Regions from separate parts of the Homo sapiens genome. Here all the other regions are reported to be linked to region 1. Evidence: microRNA targets listed by miRTarBase, many of them from high-throughput screens and not tested one by one. Region 1 holds a microRNA gene; each other region holds the end of a gene's coding sequence.

Evidence for each region. Region 1 holds the annotated microRNA hsa-miR-4671-3p (UUAGUGCAUAGUCUUUGGUCU, at 2,126-2,146, shown strand). A microRNA usually pairs through its seed, bases 2 to 8, with sites in the 3' UTR of a target mRNA and lowers its output. Matches are read on the target gene's strand: a 7mer-m8 pairs with bases 2 to 8, a 7mer-A1 pairs with bases 2 to 7 and ends in A, and an 8mer does both.
Region 2: the mRNA of SUN2 is a reported target of hsa-miR-4671-3p. Seed matches in the 3' UTR shown: 7mer-m8 at 2,511-2,517.
Region 3: miRTarBase lists USP13 as a target of hsa-miR-4671-3p. The part of its 3' UTR that is shown has no 7-base or 8-base seed match.
Region 4: the mRNA of ZNF620 is a reported target of hsa-miR-4671-3p. Seed matches in the 3' UTR shown: 7mer-m8 at 2,394-2,400.
Region 5: the mRNA of ZNF154 is a reported target of hsa-miR-4671-3p. The part of its 3' UTR that is shown has no 7-base or 8-base seed match.

The regions. Positions count from the first base shown.
Region 1 is chr1:234,304,387-234,307,386 of GRCh38, forward strand. It overlaps MIR4671 (microRNA 4671), which reads left to right and starts at 2,081; the gene lies at 2,081-2,153. All of the region lies in intron 3 of SLC35F3 (solute carrier family 35 member F3), which reads left to right.
Region 2 is chr22:38,732,292-38,736,705 of GRCh38, forward strand. It overlaps SUN2 (Sad1 and UNC84 domain containing 2), which reads right to left. Exons shown (of 18, transcript NM_015374.3): 18 at 2,443-4,089. The coding sequence ends at 3,976. GTPBP1 (GTP binding protein 1) reads left to right here. Exons shown (of 12, transcript NM_004286.5): 12 at 1-1,296. Among named protein-coding and RNA genes, the nearest start is that of SUN2, 21 kb to the right of the region's middle.
Region 3 is chr3:179,783,940-179,788,353 of GRCh38, forward strand. USP13 (ubiquitin specific peptidase 13) reads left to right here. Exons shown (of 21, transcript NM_003940.3): 21 at 109-4,414. The coding sequence ends at 202. Among named protein-coding and RNA genes, the nearest start is that of PEX5L-AS2, 110 kb to the right of the region's middle.
Region 4 is chr3:40,515,922-40,520,335 of GRCh38, forward strand. It overlaps ZNF620 (zinc finger protein 620), which reads left to right. Exons shown (of 5, transcript NM_175888.4): 5 at 1-2,815. The coding sequence ends at 942. Among named protein-coding and RNA genes, the nearest start is that of ZNF621, 6.8 kb to the right of the region's middle.
Region 5 is chr19:57,698,835-57,701,834 of GRCh38, reverse strand. It overlaps ZNF154 (zinc finger protein 154), which reads left to right. Exons shown (of 3, transcript NM_001085384.3): 3 at 1-3,000. The coding sequence ends at 200. Among named protein-coding and RNA genes, the nearest start is that of ZNF154, 8.9 kb to the left of the region's middle.

The DNA of each region.
Region 1 (3,000 bases):
TCCTGACCTCAAGTGATCTGCCCGCCTTGGCATCCCAAAATGTCTATTAATTTCTAAAATGTAGTTATATATTTAATTTCCAAGATTATATCCTTTTTAATAACCATTTGTTCTTGTTTCATAGATACAATATCTTCTCTTATCTCTGCAAGGATATTATCTCTCTGCCACCCCACGCACATACCTATATAAATCCTTCCTGTCCTTTAGTCCTTCGGTTCAGCTCAAAATCCACATTTTTATGAGGACTTATCCAGTCAGCCCAACTCTCCACTGTAGCATCATTATATTCCACACCATCTATCTCCTATGTGAATATGTTAGGCTTGCATTGCCTCCTATGGAAGGATAAATGTTATCTCCCCAATTACACCTTCTCATGAGCAGGGGCTGCTCTTGAAAATTAAATGTAGGATACCAATATTTTAAAATGTAATAGAAGAGTTGGAATATAAAGTCAAGATAATCTCCCATAAAATAAGATAGAGAAAGCAAGAAGGAAAAAAGAAAATTAGAAGATCAAACCAAAAGATCCAATATCAAACTAAAAGAAGCACCAGAAAAACTGAAATAGAAAAAAACTAAATAGAAAAACTGAAGTGGAGGAAATTACAAAAGAAATAATTCATCTTAGTTTAAAAGAAAAGCTTCCTTAGCTTGAAAAGTTTACTTTTCTGTATCAGCCACAAGGCCTTGTCTAGAATTGTGGGAATGGCAAGTGCTAAACCAGTGTTTGTTGATATGAATTAAATGATAAGCCATCCTCATCCCTAAATGTGTGATATAACCAAATTTTAGAAATTCATAGAAAAGTTAGAATATGAAGTCAAGACAGGCTATCCCAGCTAGGATTCTTTAAAGAGTACTAAGAACATAAGTATGTAAGTATTTGTCAAATAATATGAGTGCAGAACTTATAGATTTTTACCATTTTTTCTTTTACCATGTTTCTTTGAATAATTCTATTGAATAATTAAATATTCAGTAGCAGTATTGCTTTTTTTTTTTTTTTTTTGAGACAGAGTCTTGCTCTGTCACCAGGCTAGAATGCAGTGGCACCACCTTGGCTCACTGCAACCTCCGCCTTCCAGGTTCAAGCGATTCCCCTCCCTCAGTCTCCCAAGTAGCTGGGACTACAGGCGCGCACCACCATGCCTGGCTAATTTTTTTGTGTTTTTAGTAGAAATGGGGTTTCACCATGTTGGTCAGGCTGGTCTCGATCTCCTGACCCTGTGATCCACCCACCTTGGCCTCCCAAAGTGCTGGGATTACAGGCGTGAGCCACCACCCCCAGCCTAGTATTGCTTATTTTTATTAAGTCTTTCTTGAAGCTCTCAATTTAGATTTCATGGAAAAAAAGTTTTCGTTTCCCACTCATATTTCATTGGTTTATGAAATACTTAATTAAACCGTGTAATTGAAATACCAAGAACAGCTAACTGGCACAAGCAGGATCAGAAGTAAATACATCTAATCTTTGTATGTGACTCAATCCATAGGAACAGAAGGACTTGAGTGTTCTGGAAGTAACCTGCCACCCTCTAGTCTTAAGCCTGCCAGCAGCATCAGTGAGCAGAAGGAATGAAGGGTGTTAGACTGTCCCGTCAGTAATGTGGGCGTCAGTCAAGAGAGTGTTGACTGTGCTCCATTTGTATACCAAGAAGAGGGAGGTCTCTGGCAGAAATGGATTCATGTTCATCATCTGTCTTGGGTTCCCTTGCAATCAAGGACGTACATGGGCCAGCCAGATCCTGAGATATTGTGCTGGGTTTTTTTGTTTGTTTGTTTTTTGAGATGGAGTTTCACTCTTGTCACTTAGGCTGGAGTGCAATGGTGCAATCTCAGCTCACTGCAACCTCCGCCTCCCGGGTTCAAGTGATTCTCCTGCCTCAGGCTCCCGAGTAGCTGGGATTACCGGTGCTCACCACCATGCCTGACTAATTTTTGAATTTTTAGTAGAGACAGGGTTTCACCATGTTGGCCAGGCTTGTCTCAAACTCCTGACCTCAGCTGACCCGCCTCGGCCTCTCAAAGTGCTAGGATTACAGGTGTGAGCCACCGCTGCCGGCCAATATTATGCTATTTTAAGACCGAAGACTGTGCGCTAATCTCTTAGCACTGAAGATTAGTGCATAGTCTTTGGTCTCAAAATATCACAAAGCTCACCAGTCCAGGGGGCCAATTGTCTTGGTCTCATTAGAACCAAGACCTACCAACCTAAGCTGTGATCTCCTGGCCATGAGGCCTTAAAGGGCCAGCAGGACTCTGCCAGGCCTCAGAGTCTCACCTTTTTCATCTCCAGGATGGGATCCCCACTCTCTCCCCATTTCCAGCAACTTGGGCCATCAATACCAAGCCATATCTGTGCCCTACCTCCCTTCTCCATCCCATCTACAATGATCAGGCTTTGGAGGAGTCAAATATGGATTTTCAAAGAGGAAGTAGGTTGCCCAGTTAGCCTTGGATGGCCCCTTCCAGAAGATGAATTGTTTTTCATGACAGTGAGCCAGGTGGAACTTGGAAATTCTGCTTGCATGATGTTCTTCTCTTAGAAAGGGAAACCTCTAAGTATAGTGGAGATAGATTGACATTAATGGCCAGAAAGAATATTTGTATTTTATTTTGGTCATACTCAATGGACCAGCATCACTTTGTAGCCACCATAATCACAAACATAAAGGAAGCCATCATTCACGGTCACTGCCCCTGGGGGAACAGACTGTTCTGCAAACAGGGGCTTGGGAAAACCCCATAGAAAATGTAGCTGGAATATTGTATGAAAATTACATGGCAAACAGAAATATCAGCCTCTCAGTTAGATGAGGGTTGCAGCTATATAAAGCCAAAATGGAATCAATTCAGTTGAATCGGTTTCATGATAAATTTAGTGAAGTGAATGTTTTACCTGGCCCCGGTTTGTTCAGAAGCAACATAGGACTCTGTGTACAGAGAGAGGTGGCCAAACTGCACCAGACTCCACAAAACGGTAAGTGTGTTTCT
Region 2 (4,414 bases), not on the chromosome of region 1:
ACGCAGTTGCTCTGCCTGCCCTGGGGCCCCTGGCGACAGCTGGGAGCAGGGCAGTGCTGTGAGGAGCCCAGCTTTCCCAGTCAGGCAGGCATGGCTTCCGTGTTCAGGCTCCCTCACCAGCTGGTGACACGGGACAAGCTTACAAACCTTCTCTGAACCTCAGTTTTCTCATTTACAAGAGGCAAAGCCATCCATCACCTTGTGTGGATTCAGAGAATGTGAGGCCCTGGGGTGTCCTACACAAGGGAAAGGCTTGCTCAGTGAGCGGTCTGCACACCGTTAGCCACCCTGCCACCTCTGTGCCCTGGGCAGGCTCCAAAGGAAAGCTCTGGCTGGGACTGCCAGGAGTCTCACACGCTCCTGTTGACATTCCCAGCAGCCGCCCCTGAGGTCGATGTTTGTTCTGTTTTTCTTTTTCTTTTTTGAGACGGAGTCTCGCTGTGTTGCCAGGCTGGAGTGCAGTGGTGTGATCTCTGCTCACTGCAACCTCCGCCTGCCAGTTTCAAGTGATTCTCTGCCTCAGCCTTCTGAGTAGCTGGGACTACAGGTGCACGCCACCACGCCCAGCTAACTTTTTGTATTTTAGTAGAGACAGGGTTTCGCCATGTCGGCCAGGGTGGTCTTGATCTCCTGACCTCATGATCCACCCGCCTCAGCCTCCCAAAGTGCTGGGATTACAGGTATGAGCCACCGCACCGGGCCTGTTCTATTTTTCTAGTTAAGGGAACTGAAGCTCAGAGAGGTGTCACCAGCAGGTGTTCATTCCCATGCCAGCCTTGCCCCCCGGCTTTTCCCAGGCAGGCTCCTGCGTGCCCACTGGCTCCAGCCTGGTCCTCTGTCTCTTGGCTGCTTCACTCCTGCTCTTTGTCCCGACTCTGGCCCTGCTTACAGGGGCCACTACCTGCTGGTGCCTCCATAACAAGCGTCTGGCGTTGAGACCCCTGGCATGGCAGGGGCTTTGGGGTCTGGTTTCCACAAGGCTTAGCCATGGCAGAACCTCGTTTTATTTTAACTCTTTGCCCCTACAAACAAACAGCAGTACTTGCCAGAACCATTCTTGGGATTCAGGAGCTCGGGCGACTGCCTTGGCCTCTGGCCGCACCCAGGAGGGTGGGGTTGGATCTGTGTAGTTGCCAGGCCCACACCTGCCAGCAGGGGGCTGACTGGATCCATGCTTTACTGTGTTTAATGGGGGTAACAGGGGTCCCTACAGCCCTCCCAGCTAAACATTTGGAACAAAACACCAGCCCTTTTGTAGTGGATGCAGAATAAAATTGTTAATCCAATCACCTCCAATGGCAAGGCCTGACCCTTCTGTGTGTGCAGCAGGTGTTTGTGGCGTCTTTCCCAGGAGTAAGGCCTGTGATGGTGGGATGGGGATGGCCAGACCCCTGACTCCACAGTCAGGACTGTTCTGGCTTATCAGCCACCCTGGCACAGAGAAGGTCACAGGGATGAATATGCCACGCACAGGGGCAGCACAGGTTTAGTTGGGTTGGGGGAAGTACCATGGAGCCGGCAGTGTGAGGGCTGTGCTGTGAGGGCCCAGTAGGATTTGAATGTACAGATGGGCAGAGGGCATGTGCCCAGCCCAGGCTCTGGACTCTTGCCACAGTGTGTGGCAACTTCCAGGGGCTTGTTTATTGGTGCTGCGTGGGGATGTCTCCTTTGTTTAGATGGCGTCAGAGGCAGAGCAGGTGTCAGTGAAGGGGAGTGAGCACAGGACCAGCTGTCTCCCAAGAGGCTGAGGAGCTGGCCCAAGGCTTTGGGGGCTGGATTTGTGCCTCACCCAGCTCCTGCCTTGTGGCTGTCTCCACAGTCCTCCCTACTGACTGGCTTTCTGCCTTTGTTTTCTCAGCCATGATGAGGAGCAGCCCTGGGCCAGGTGCCACGGTCAGTATGAGAGGCTCCAGGATCAGGCTAGAGAACCACGCGAACCAGGTCTGGGGAGCTATCTGTGGGAAAGGTCAGGGCCTGTTTTTCTCCTAAGCTGCTGGCTGTTCAAGGGACCTACCTCCTTGTCCCTTCCCAGTCACAGGTCCAAGGGGCAAATAGCGAATTCCCATGGAGGAGAATCACTGCACTCCAAGTGGACGTGGCTGGTAGGTAAGTGTAACTTTTTCTGCTGCTGTTCAGTGGTACTGAGAGACAGGAAAGCCCCACTGCTCCCGCCCCACCCTTTGTGATGGGTTATCAATGACAGCTAATAAAGCCACCTCACTGCTTCCTCATGCCAGCCCTTGACCCACAAACACTGGAGGAGACCTGCCTCAGGTCCCATCCCCCACCACAACTGGGCTTTAGCTGAAAGTTGTGGGTTTCTGAACTTCAGGAATAAGTCTTTGGGGACATTCGTTTGGCCAAGAATTCATTCCCTCATCTGCCCAAGAGCAGCTGCCCTAGGTGATAGGCAAAAGCCACATGAAAGCCACATCCCACAGCTCTTGGGCGTCATTTATTTTTTGCATAGGCATAAATTAGGATCTGGAGATAAAAAACTTAAGAACCAATAGTGCAGCATTTGTGACAGGAGAGCGCAAAACAAACCCTGGCTGCCTCGGGATGGAGCGGGGCGGCCTCACCACCACTGCATCCAGCCTCATGCTCCAGAGCGGATTTGAGGCTCAGTGCTGCAGTGAAGGCCTGCCCGCCTTCTTGCCCCTTCCCCGCAGCCAGACCACCAGACACAGCCGGAACCAGTGCCCCAGGCCCCTCTCCACGGCCAGGAACAAGAAACTGAGTATCACCCAGTGCCCCACAGAACGGGGCTAGGAATCAAGCCCTTAGCTTTTCAGTTAGAAAAACAGACCTTGAAAAATATATACATAATACAGTGGGGCCTGCTGGCTCTAAAAGTCCCCTCCTCCCCCTTCCCTATCCAGGGTAACTTCTGCCAGCCTCTTCCCCCAGCCCCCACCAACTGCCCCACAGAGAACAAACCAGAAGGGCGACTACCTGAACAAGAGCTGCAAGAGCCCAAGGGGGCAGCCTGAGCGGACGACCCCTACATCAGGGCCTGGTTAGATGTGGGGGCCGGTGCAGACAGACCTCGCACCCCGATACCCTGAACGTCCCCACAAGAGCCCAGGAGTTCCATGCTCCCCACTCTTCTTGCTATAACCCCAGATGCTAATGGCCCCAAAGACAGGTCTAGGTCTCCATACCCTGGGAGAATGTGGAAAGCAAGCTCAGGGGCACTGGCAGGCCCTAGCAGGAACAGGGAGCAGGGTGGGCCCCAACCTAGCATCAGGAGAGAGAAAAGCAACTACCGTCCCCAGCAGAGGGGAAGCCTACAGGGTTGGCCCTGGGCCCCTTAGAAGATCACAGCAGCCAGTCCCCTTTAGGGCACAAGAAGCCCCATGGCCCACTGCTACCCTCCCCGGGACAAATACACACTTTTGTCGAAGGCCCTCAGGGACCCTGTGGTTCATGCTTCCCTAGGTGGAGGGCACTAACCTTGTAGGAGAGCTGGGCAGCTCTCCATCAAGTGCTTCCTGCCTGGGGAAGTCCCATCCTGCTCTGGAGCTAAGCACCCTCCTCCCAGAGGGCCTCGCTTCCTTGCCCAGGGGCAGAGGCAGCTCACCTAGCCCAGGCCGTAGCTTGCCCCTCCCACAGCCCTGGCACCTGCTTCATCAGCTCCCAGGCACCAGCCCCTGACCCCAGCCAAGACCAGTCAGGTCCTACCTCTCCCAACTTCCCAGTCCCCCATGATATGCTACATATATACACACTCCCAGGATGGGAAGCAGACGCCACGGGCACAGAGGGAAGGAAGAAGGGAGCTGCTGGAGCCTGCTAACCGCCTCGAGCCACCTGCTGCTCAGGAGACCCTGCCCGTCCTTTTCATCTGCATGGGGCCACAGGCTCCTCTCTTGTGCTCCTAGAAGTCAGAGCGCCGAGCAAGCGTGTGGGGGAAGCGGCGGGGTGCTGTTCACCCACTCCCAGATGGCTGGCAGCAGGCACCAGTAAGCAGGGCTAGTGGGCGGGCTCCCCATGCACTCTGAAGCGGTAGATGCAGGTGTACTCGGGGTGGCCCCAGTTAGTCAGGATCCGCAGCTCCACCACCTGGTACGTGGCCATCGTAGGGGCCTGGGTAGAGAAGAAAGGGATTAAGAGCATCAGAGACCTGTGAGGCCTCACTGACAGAGAAGGTGGGAAGGGGAGACAGCCTCGCCTAGGGCCAGATGGCTCCCCTGCTCCTTCCCTGGGGCTCTGAAGAGAACCAGGCTTCAAAAGCTCCTATCTTTAGCCTCCTGAGCAGTGTTTCCAGCCAGTGGGTTAAGGGGCCACCTGTAGCACACTTCATCTGAAACCGGAATGAATTCATCCACAATCGTTTTTTTATTGTGATCAACAGATAGAACCACCTTCATAGAGGGCTTCATAGATGCTGATGTGGGGCACACTTGATTCT
Region 3 (4,414 bases), not on the chromosome of region 1:
TTAAAACATCATGGTTAAGTGTTGTGCGCCATATGATTTAGTGACTTCTTTGTGTAAAGTTTCCTGGAACTGACTTAAATCCATCAAATGCTTCTGTCTTATTTTCAGATGGGTGATTTACAATGACCACAAAGTTTGTGCCTCAGAAAGGCCCCCTAAAGACCTGGGCTACATGTACTTTTACCGCAGGATACCAAGCTAAACCTCAAATATAAAAATTGGCGAAAAGAAGCCATACGCCTTTTTAATTTGCCAAAAAAAAAAAGAAGAAGAAGAAGTTGAAACAACTAGACATGAAGGAATATATGGGGTATTTATCGTTTATTTAAAGAGCACGATCAGTTGACACCTTCTGAAATAGAACTGAGAAGAAATTTCTATTAGTGATGATACACTATTATATTGTAGATAGTTTTTATAAATGTTCAAAAAGATGATGATATTTAAAAACAAAAAAAGTATTCATATTGCTGGTGGAGGATCTGCCATCAGCACATCAAAAATGGGGATGTGCCCCCAGCCCTCTATTTTGCTTTGGGGGTCAGTGATAGTGGCCTCTGGAGAAACCAAATAATGTGGCCAGTGGTGTGGCCTTACCCACAACAAATGAAAAGCCCACTTGTGTTTCATATAGAAAATCAGCAGTTGGGTGGGGCTTTATTTGTGACATAATTTTTTTCATGACATACAATAATTTCTGATGTATCCATGTAGATATTATGCTCTGTCCATAATAGAGCCTCTGCAATGAAAGATATTTTTAATTTGTCACATTAAAATTCATAATACGATTGTGTGAATGTGTGTGAGACTGACTGAGAGTGTGAGACTTTTACTAGAAAAGTGAGTCCACTAGAAAATCTGTGACAAGTTGGTTTTTAAAGTCTGAACAGTTGATATTAAGCATATCTGAAAAAAGCAAGTAAATATTTTAACAAAACTATGACTCAGGAACCTTCGAGAAGATTAGTTCCCCACTTAGATTTTTAAGGAGTAAAAAGGGCTGAGTTATGCCTTTAAGTGCTGTCAAGAATTCACTTGGGTTTGGGACATTTGCTGGTGTAATGCTAGATGCCCACAGCAGCATAATATTGTACTTTGTCAAAGGTAGGTAAATTCTCTGTTTCTCAGCAGCCCTTTCCCCAAAAGGTATGGTGTTTATTTTTAGTAAAAATAGCTAATCTCTTTTTACCATCTCACATGATAACTCTTTGGAGTCATGTCAAGTGCCCCAAATTTGTCTGTGATTTTCCCATCTCTGAGCTCTTTATCTGCCTCCGTTTCCTTGTTTTTCTGGGGCCAGAGTCTCATCTCTGCCTTTTTTTGGTGTATCACCTTCTGACTTGCCTTCATTGCTTGTCTGATGTGACCAACAGTGTGATCTTGGACACACTAAGGATTTTAGATGCAAAGAAACTTTATACAACATTATGAAAGACTATCCTTTCCATTTTGGTTATTTCAGCATTTTAGTTGCAACCTGGGATTAGATTAGAGTTTCCAACGTGATGAAAAGTGGAATGATAGCATTCTATAATTTCCATAATTTTCCTACTGGTCCGTACCAAATTCTAGAGTCTCTGGAGTTGCTATTTCAGAGTATTTGGTCAAACGAAAAAGAATTTATTGCTGTCTGTTTAACATGTATTTGTTTGGTTGAAAGGATCTTTTTAGAAACTGTAGGAAAATAAACAGAACCAACCAGGTGAAACAAAGCACAGACATTGGGTTAGGATGTAGTGAGTTGTGAACAATCAGGATTCTGGGTGTGATGGGGGTCCCTGTCTCATAGGTGATCCTTTGGTGCCATGTGACCGAGAGACATGGTGTCTAAGGCCCATGGCCTGGAGACCTGGGTGCTGCTCCTAGCTGACTGTGGACCTTGGGCAAGTCCTTCATCCGTCCTGTGCCTCACTGTCCTCATCTGAACAATGGTATGATGACACCTGCCCTCTCTTTCAATCATGCTTTGAGGATACAGTGAGATTGGTTACAGTGAACCTTCAATGAGTAGAATGTGGTATGCCATGGTGGGTTGTAGTAGATGGTGCTCCCTGCCTTTTCTCCTCTGTTTTCCTCAATTTGGGAACAAATGAGATTGGCAGAAGGAGGGAGCTCACGGTGCAGTACTTTTCTACCAAAGTGTGCCCACTGGTGTCACCTCCTAATGTTAACTTGGATTTCCTAAAGCAGTCCCACTCTGTTATGAGAGTCACTGACTCCCGTGGACATCCCCACAGTAAGCAGCCTTACAAAATCCAGTCCCCTTAGGGCAGAGTGAGTGTCATAGAATAATGACTCCAAACCCACGTCAAAAATGGCTTGTTTTCAGCGATGTTATAAAACAAAGGCCTGTTTTTTGGAATTGGGGGTGACTGGGTGGTTTGGATTGAAATGTGGACAAAGATAGCATGTGTATTTTGAATAAAATAAAAATTTTGTAATAAAACTTTTAAAAATCAGTGATGTAAAATCAATATTTAAGACTATAGGCTATAAATTGTTTGATTTCATTAACTAGCCCTTTTGATGCCTAGACATGTTGTAAAAAAATTGTGCTATGGCTGCCTTTTCTTCTGCCCCACAACACAAAGGGCTATTTCTACAAGGCAAAGTTTTGTATATGTGCTATTCTTTACTTCAGATTGAGAGTTGGGAAAAACTGGAGTAAATAATGGGTTTCTTACTTGCTTAAAAGCATATTTATATGTGTATCTCAATATATACAAGGCAGGTTCCCCTATAAAAGTCTGGAATGTACTGCTTAATTTTACACTTGTGTAGACACGATTATTTGTGACTGAAAAGTGGAATAACGTGTGGATTTTGTCAACTCATTATCAGTCTGTTAGCAGTCCTCTATGTGAGGCATGGTGGTCTAATTGTGAAATTCTCCCTGTATATGGGTGTCTGTGTGAAAGACAGCACTTTCTTCCTGTAAATATCTTTTGATATCCATTTATGTAGAATTCCAATGAATATGTCTTTGGAAAAGGTAATGTATCAAAGTTTTTATTTTGCCAATTGATCTAAATGCCCATATAACTAATCAGAAATCCAGTTTGGTTCAGATTGGGATTTTCTTTTAAAGAAAAAAAAAGTATGCAGAAAAGACTATTGGAAGAATCATGTGTTAGTGACACTTTACATCAACGTTGCTTCAATATTTTGGAATTGACCAGGCTGCTTTCTCCTACCTGCAAGAGAATGTGCCTGACATTTCCCAGTGCTTACTTTGGGCTATAGGAAGTCCAGCGGGGATAGCTCGAGCCTCTTGCTCCCTGAGTCATTTATTCCCTTTACCTGAACAGAGCCTTACCTGCAATTCATAGTGAGAGCACCTGGGTCTGTATCCTGACTCCACTCTAAGTGAGGTGGGACTGAATCACTGTACCTCTCTGGGCCTTTTCATTTGAAACAAGTGGGTTAGACTAGATTAGCTCCAAAGTCCTCTCTTGCCCTAACATTTTATTTTTATTTTCCTGTGGTTACCACTAGGGTCTGACACGTAAAATGTGAGGGATCACTTAGAGGTTTGGATGTTATATTTTTGCATTGTTACAGCTTATACTCCCCAGTTGAGGACCTGTGTCATTCTTAGTGGCCCCACGACCCCTCTGTTTGTATTCCTGCTCCACTTATCTATACTTTTTTGGGTAATCATCCCACTTTTTTTTTTTCTTGAGATGGAGTCTCGCTGTGTTGCCAAGGCTGGAGTACAGTGGTGCAATCTCAGCTCACTGCAGCCTCCTCCCGGGTTCAAGTGATTCTCCTGCCTCAGCTTCCCAAGTAGCTGGGATTACTGGCGCACGCCACTACGCCCAGCTAATTTTTGTATTTTTAGTAGAGACAGGGTTTTGCCATGTTGGCCAGGCTGGTCTTGAACTCTTGACCTCAACCTGCCTCAGCCTCCCAAAGTGCTGGGATTACACGCATGAGCTACCGCGTCCAGCCCCACTTTTTTTCTACTCTTGAAAAAAACAACTTTCTAGTCCATGAGGTACTTTGGCTCCATCCCCCTCAAAAACAAAACAAAAAATCCATTTAAAGTGTCCTCCTAGAAAAGCCTCAGAACTGCCTTCAACTACATCTGTCACCTTTATAGAATATTTTGAAATTCTGGAAGAGGATGGGAAACAAAATTCTAATTTAGCTAGAGCTGTGATCCCCAAATAAGTGCTGACAAAATTGTCTACCACAGAAAGGCCGTCCTTGTCATCTTGTAGGCATCACTGCTGCTAAATCACATCAGTACATGCCTTCTGTGGGGAGATGGCAGGGGGCAGGGGCAGGACCAGGGGATGGGATTAGATAAAGTGTGATAATGTCCTTTAGATAAAAGAAATCCTACGCTATAGAACAAGGTTCTGTACTCTTGAGTTGGTGTCTGAGATCACCTGCACAGTGTTACAGA
Region 4 (4,414 bases), not on the chromosome of region 1:
GAGTCCTTCAGACTGATGGTGGGGGGCCTGCCAGGGAATGTTTCCCAGCACCTTGACTTTGGGAGCAGCCTAGAGCAGCCACAAGGTCATTGGATAATTAAGACAAAGTCAAAGAGGAGACATTTCACAGATACCTCAGCCAGGCACCATGAGGCCTATGAGGTCAAGAATGGAGAGAAGTTTGAGAAATTAGGAAAAAATATTAGCGTCAGCACACAACTCACTACAAATCAGACAAATCCTAGTGGTCAGATATCTTATGAATGTGGACAATGTGGCAGATATTTCATTCAAATGGCAGACTTCCACCGACATGAGAAATGTCACACTGGTGAAAAGTCTTTTGAATGCAAAGAATGTGGAAAATACTTCAGATATAACTCATTACTTATTCGGCATCAGATAATTCACACTGGAAAGAAACCATTTAAATGTAAAGAATGTGGAAAAGGTTTAAGTTCAGACACAGCCTTGATTCAGCATCAGAGAATCCACACTGGAGAAAAGCCCTATGAATGTAAGGAGTGCGGCAAGGCCTTCAGTAGCAGCTCTGTCTTCCTCCAGCACCAGAGGTTCCACACTGGGGAGAAGCTCTATGAATGTAACGAATGTTGGAAAACTTTCAGTTGCAGCTCAAGTTTCACTGTCCATCAGCGAATGCACACTGGGGAGAAACCTTATGAATGTAAAGAGTGTGGAAAACGATTAAGCTCCAACACAGCCTTGACTCAGCATCAGCGAATTCACACTGGGGAGAAGCCCTTTGAATGTAAGGAGTGTGGGAAGGCATTCAATCAGAAAATAACCCTGATTCAGCACCAGCGAGTTCACACTGGCGAGAAACCTTATGAGTGTAAAGTGTGTGGTAAAACCTTCAGCTGGTGTGGAAGATTCATTCTGCATCAGAAACTACACACTCAGAAGACACCTGTCCAAGCATAGGGCTATCCATAGTTAGGCCCACTGTGCCTCTCCTTTTTTCTCTTTATTTTCATGCTTTTTATCAGTGTCCTCGCTGTCCTTCCTGGTTAGACACTTGGCTTTCATCATGAACTCTTCTTTAAGTTTTTTGAACCTGTTTCCCCAACATGAAGTCTCTTTATGGTTAGAGAAGACCAAAAAACAAACAAACAAACTTAGAAACATAAAAGGAAATGTAAGTTTCCAGATTTAAAGGACATGCTGGGTGCCCAGCAGGATGGATTCAAGGGAAACCTACATTAAGGAAAATTGCTGTGAATTATGAAAACACCAAGTTTGAATAAGAGGATCATGGAGAAAAAATGAGACCCTAAAAAGTTTCTAGAGAGAGAAAACAAAAGATCAGAAATGAAAGCGGGGCCAGGCGCGGTGGCTCGTGCCTGTAATCCCAGCACTTTGGGAGGCTGAGGCGGGTGGATCATGAGGTCAGGAGTTCGAGACCAGCCCGCCCAATATGGTGAAACCCCGTCTCTCCTGAAAAAAAAAAACACAAAAATTAGCCAGGCATGGTGGCGCATGCCTGTAATCCCAGCTACTAGAGAGGCTGAGGCAGGAGAATCACTTGAATCCCTGAGGCAGAGGTTGCAGTGAGCTGAGATCGCACCACTGCACTCCAGCCTGGGCGACAGAGTGAGACTTTGTCTCAAAAACAGTAAAAAATGAAAATGGCATTAGATTTTTCAAGAGCAACCTTCAAAGTCAGATGACAATGTGTATGCCTTCAGACTTCTCATGGAAAATGTTTTCCCCTGCAATTCTATACTCCAAAGTATAAGTATAGAATAAAGGCATTTCAGACCCTTTAAATCTGAAATCTTTATCTCCCATGCATCCTTTCTCATATGTGCAACACTACACAAGGAGTAAACCAGTAAATAAAAAGACAGATATATGGATTCCCTATTGCAGTCCGTACGTCAGAAGTCTCCTAAATTCAAAAACGGGCCCTGTCCATGTGGAGCCAAATGCATCTTGGAAGACATTCCTAGTAGGGTGCAAACTTCCAGAGACCTATCTCAGGTTCAGTGTCCACCCACCCTACTTATTCTTCAGTTTGTCTTCACTAGACAGTTGTACTCTGTGCCTTTGCAAAAGTCAGGATGTATATACTCTTTGAGTCAGGTGCAAGGCACCATTTGTCTTAAATTTATTCTCATTGCTGTTTCAAGTGACCTCAAAGCAGGCAGCATTTTCTTGCAATTCCATCTAGTTATTTTTTATGATCATGGAAGAACCTACCATTATTGCTGTTACCTGTGGAAATGAGGGAAGATGTAAATGTGTTAGGTTTTAGCATCCCCTCTGGCAGCCAGCTTGATTTTGCAGGAAGCAGAGAGTAGTGATTAATAATACAGAGCCAGGCAGACTTTGGTTTGAGTCCAGGTGTTTGTCCTTGGTTAAGTTACAAAAACTGCACTAGTTTCCTTATCTGTAAAATGAGGATGACAGTTAATCTACCTCATAGGTTTGTGTTGGGGATTAAATGCATTATTTGTAGAAGTGTTTCAAACAGTGACTACATATAATAAAAGTATTACCTATTATTGGCCGGGCACAGTGGCTCATGCCTGTAATCCCAGCACTTTGGGAGGCTGAGGTGGGCAGATCACAAGGTCAGGAGATCAAGACCATCCTGCTAACACACTGAAACCCTGTCTCTACTAAAAGTACAAAAAATTAGCTGGGCGTGGGGTGACATGTGCCTGTAGTCCCAGCTACTTGGGAGGCTGAGGCAGGAGCCCAGGGAGGCAGAGGTTGCAGTGAGCCAAGATCATGCCACTGCACTCCAGTCTGGGTGACAGATTGAGACTCCGTCTCAAAAAAAAAAAAAAAAAAATTTTTACCTATTATTATAATCCTATTGGTAAGTTTTGACTTATCAATATACTAGTGAAACAATTATCACAGTTCAAGATAATAATCAGCCACCACCCCAAAACTTTGCTTGTACCCCTCCATAATCCCTTCCTCTTGGCCCTTCACAGGCAACCACTGGTTTGCTTTCTGTCACTTGGATTAATTTTCCTTTATTTTTTGGTCTGGTGTCTTTCACTCAGCATAATTACTTTGAGATTCACCCATGTTGTTGCATATATATCAATAGTTCATTCCTTTTTATTGCTGAGTAGTATTCCACTGTATGGATATGCCATAATTTGTTTATTCATTGACCTGTTGATGGCCATTTGGGTTGTTTTCAGTTTTTGGCTATTACAAATAAAGCTGCTATGGACATTTGTGTCCACATCTTTGTAAGAATATATGCTTTCATTTATCTTGATACAGGAGTGGAATGGCTAGGTCATTAGGTAGATTGGTATAGATTAAACGTTTTAAATTTTTATTATGTTTTTATTTTTTAGAGGTTGGTGGGGGGCAGTTCTTGCTTTGTTGTTCAGGCTGGACTCAAACTCCTGGGCTCAGGGTATCCTCCTGCCTCAGTCCCCCTGTCCTACTCTTAGTAGCTGGGACTACAGGTGTGCACCACCATACCCTATTTAACATTTTGAGAATCTTCAAAACTGTTTTACGAAAGAGGTTGTGCCATTGTACATTTCCACTTGCATTGTATGACAGTTGTACTTCCAATACATCTATGCCTACACTTGATGTCAGTTTTTAAAATTTTAGCTATTCTAATTGTTTAATGCTATCCCATTGTGGTTTTAATTTGCATTTCTCTAATGACTATTGTGCTTATTTGTGTTCCATATAACTTATTTGATGAAGTGTCTGCTCATATTTTTTGCCCATGTTTTTATTGTGTTGTTTTTGTTTTATTAATCTTTGAGAGGTCATTATTTATTGTGGATACAAGTCTTTTTCAGATATGTGATTTTTAAATATTTTCTTCTAGCCTGTGGTTTGCCTTTTCATTCTCACAATGGTGTCTTTTTTTTTTTTTTTTTTTTTTGAGATGGGGTCTCACTCTGTTACCCAGGCTGGAGTGCAGTACCACCATCTTGGCTTACTGCAACCTTTGCCTCCCAGGTTCAAGTGATCCTCCCACCTCATCCTCCCGAGTAGCTGGGATTACAGGTGCACATCATGACAGTGTCTTTTAAAGAGCAGAAGACATTAATATGCATGAAATCCAATTTATCAGTTTTTTATTTTTAAATAGAGATGAGGTCTCACTATGTTGCACAGGCTGGTCTTGAACTCCTGGGCTCAAGCGAGCCTCTTGCCTTGACCTCCCAAAGTGCTGGAATTATAGGCATGAGCCACTGTGTCTAGCCTTTTTTTTTAATGGATCATGGTTTCAGTGTCAAATCTAAGACATCTTTGCTGTACCCACATTTGCAAAGATTTTTTTCCTAAAGTTTTCCCTTTAGAAGTTTTATAGTTTTTGTGTTTTTTTTTTTTTTTTTTTTTTGACAGAGTCTCACTCTGTTGCCCAGGCTTGAGTGCAGTGGCAGGATCTCAATGATTG
Region 5 (3,000 bases), not on the chromosome of region 1:
TCCGAAAACACCAGAGAGTTCACACTGGATCAAGACCCTATGAGTGCAGTGAATGTGGGAAATCCTTTACTCAAAATTCCGGCCTCATTAAGCACAGGAGGGTTCACACTGGGGAGAAGCCTTATGAGTGCACGGAATGTGGGAAATCCTTTAGCCATAACTCCAGCCTTATTAAACATCAGAGAATTCATAGTCGATAAAAGCCTTATGAGTGGCAAATGTGGAAAATCTGTTAGCACCCTGGAGAAAGTCCTTGAGTACACAGTGAATGTCAGAAAGCTTCAGCTGAAGGCCATATCTCATTGAGTGCCACACAGTTCACAAGGGAAAGACACTTTTGATATGTAGGGATGTCCAGTTGATATAACAGCTCTGAAGGAGATCCCTTATGAGGGTGGCATCAGCCTGAATTGAACATCCTATATCTGAACATCTGCATAAATTCCAGGTATGTGTGAACTGCATTGCACCTTTTGCCCTGCCCAGGGCCCATGTCAGATTTATGTCTCTGCTGATACTATAGTGGAAGCCATTTTACCTCTACTGCCTGGCAGGTGACCACCAGTGTGCACCACTCACCCATCCCAGTGTATTCAGGTAAGTGAACCTTGGTGTTCTGTTCATGGGAGGAATTTGTAAATAGCCTAAGCATTTATTCCGTTTTTTTTTTTTCCTTTCTGATGAGTTAGGCCATGGACCTGACCCAGTTTGGCCCAGAGGACTCTGCTGGTGACCTGAAAAGAGGGACTACATATTTCAGGATATTGTTGGTCTCACATGACTCTTGATAGAGTTTGCCAGCCTTCAAATCACCAACTGTGGGAACCAACTGCCTCTTATTGCCTTGGTTTGTACAATAACAAAGGCCTTATTAATCTTGGGGGTTCTATATGTATGGGTTGGTTTGAAAACAGTTGGGTTCTGCTAACATGAAGGGGTGAATAACTTTTTTTGGAGATCCCAAACATTGTGTAGCTCAACAGGGACAGGGACAGGGACAGTAGGATGGCAGAATATAGCTCTCTCTCTAGTTTGAGCCTAGTTTTCATTGCTATTCAAGGCCTCTGAGAAAAAACTACAGGGTATTGTCCTAATTTATATCCTGGATGCCATAGAGGTCAGCCTGAGGAGGCAGCAGTTACTTGACATCCTTTGATGTTTCTGAAAGCAACATGAAATTGTTCTCTTGTTCACAAGGAATACTGCATCGTGTTCAGTGCCAGTGGGGGAAATCTGTTCCCCAGGTCCTGTATGCCTTGATATCCTGAATTCCACAGGGTAGCACCACAGGTGGTAAGATTATAGTAGGAATTATAATTGTTATAGAAGTACTGGATTGATAGAGAGTGGAAAACTGCAATAACACTGCAATAAATAGAATGTGCCCCTTTTACAGAGGTTTCCATGATGTTCGTTATTATGGCTCTTAAGGATGAGCAGGTACAGAAATCCTCAGGACCTACAGAATTGTGTATCTTGTGTAGCTGAGGTCATTGTCAGAAATTTTATGGAATCCTGTAGCCTCTGGGATTTTCACCTCAAGGTCATTGCTATGCAGGCAGGAAAACAAGGATAGAGAAGGGAGGTCTAGGCCATTGATACAGCCTTTGTGATCCAGCCAACATTTCTGTTGAGTCAGGTGGAAATGGCCTTCACTGTTCACTTGTATTTGTGATCACTGAGGCAAAATCCTCTCCCAGGACATGAGGAGAGAGATGGTGGAATCAACATAGGGTTGTCAAACCTGATTTTCCAAAAACAATAGGAAATTCAGACTTTTATTTTGAACCATATTTTGTTAGGTTGGTGCAAAAGTAACTGTGGTTTTGAACCATGATTTATTTTTATTTTTATTTTTTTTTGAGTCAGAGTCTTGCTCTGTTGCCCAGTCTGGAGGGCAATGGCACTATCTCAGCTCATTGCAACCTCCGCCTCCCAGGTTCAAGCGATTCTTCTGCCTCAGCCTCCCAGGTAGCTGGGATTACAGGCACCCGCCACCACGCCCATCTGAGTTTTGCATTTTTAGTAGACATGGGGTTTCACCATGTTGGCCAGGCTGGTCTTGAACTCCTGACTTCATGTGATCCACCCACCTTGGCCTCCCAAAGTGCTGGGATTTACAGGCATGAGCCACTGCGCCCAGCCAAGCTTTTTCACCATTCCAATTTCCTTCAAATGCTGAACAGCCGTGGAATGGTTGACATTGAGTTCTTAGGCAACTTCTCATGTAGTTGTAAGAGGATCAGCTTCTAATATTGCTCTCAATTGGTCATTGTCAACTTCCAGTGGCTGGCCACTACTTCTCTTCAAGGCTCTTGTCTCCTTTGCAAAACTTCTTGAACCACCACTGCACTGTACATTCGTTAGCAGTTCCTGGGCCAAATGTGTTTATATCGTGAGTTGTCTCTGCTGCTTTACGACCCATTGGGAACTCAAGTAAGAAAATCTCAGCCGGGTGCGGTGGCTCACGCCTGTAATCCCAGCACTTTGGGAGGCTGAAGTAGGTGGATCACAAGGTCAGGAGTTAGAGACCAGCCTGACCAACATATTGAAACCTCATCTCTACTAAAAATACAAAAATTAGCCGGGCGTGGTGGCATGTGCCTGTAGTCCCAGCTACTTGGGAGGCTGAGGCAGGAGAATCACTTGAACCCGGGAGGCAGAAGTCACAGTGAGCCAAGATCACGCCACTGCACTCCAGCCTGGACGACAGACAAAACAAGACTCCGTCTCAAAAAAAAGAGGCCAGATGCGGTGGCTTACACCTGTAATCCCAGCACTTTGGGAGGCCGAGGTGGGTGGATCACAGGTCACGAGTTCGAGACCAGCCTGGCCAACATGGTGAAACCCCGTCTCTACTAAAAATACAAAAATTAGCTGGGCATAGTGGCATGCACCTGTAATCCCAGCTACTGGGGAGCCTGAGGCACGAGAATTGTTTGAACCCCGGGAGGTGGAGGTTGCAGTGAGCCAAGATCATGTCACTGCACTCCAGCCTGG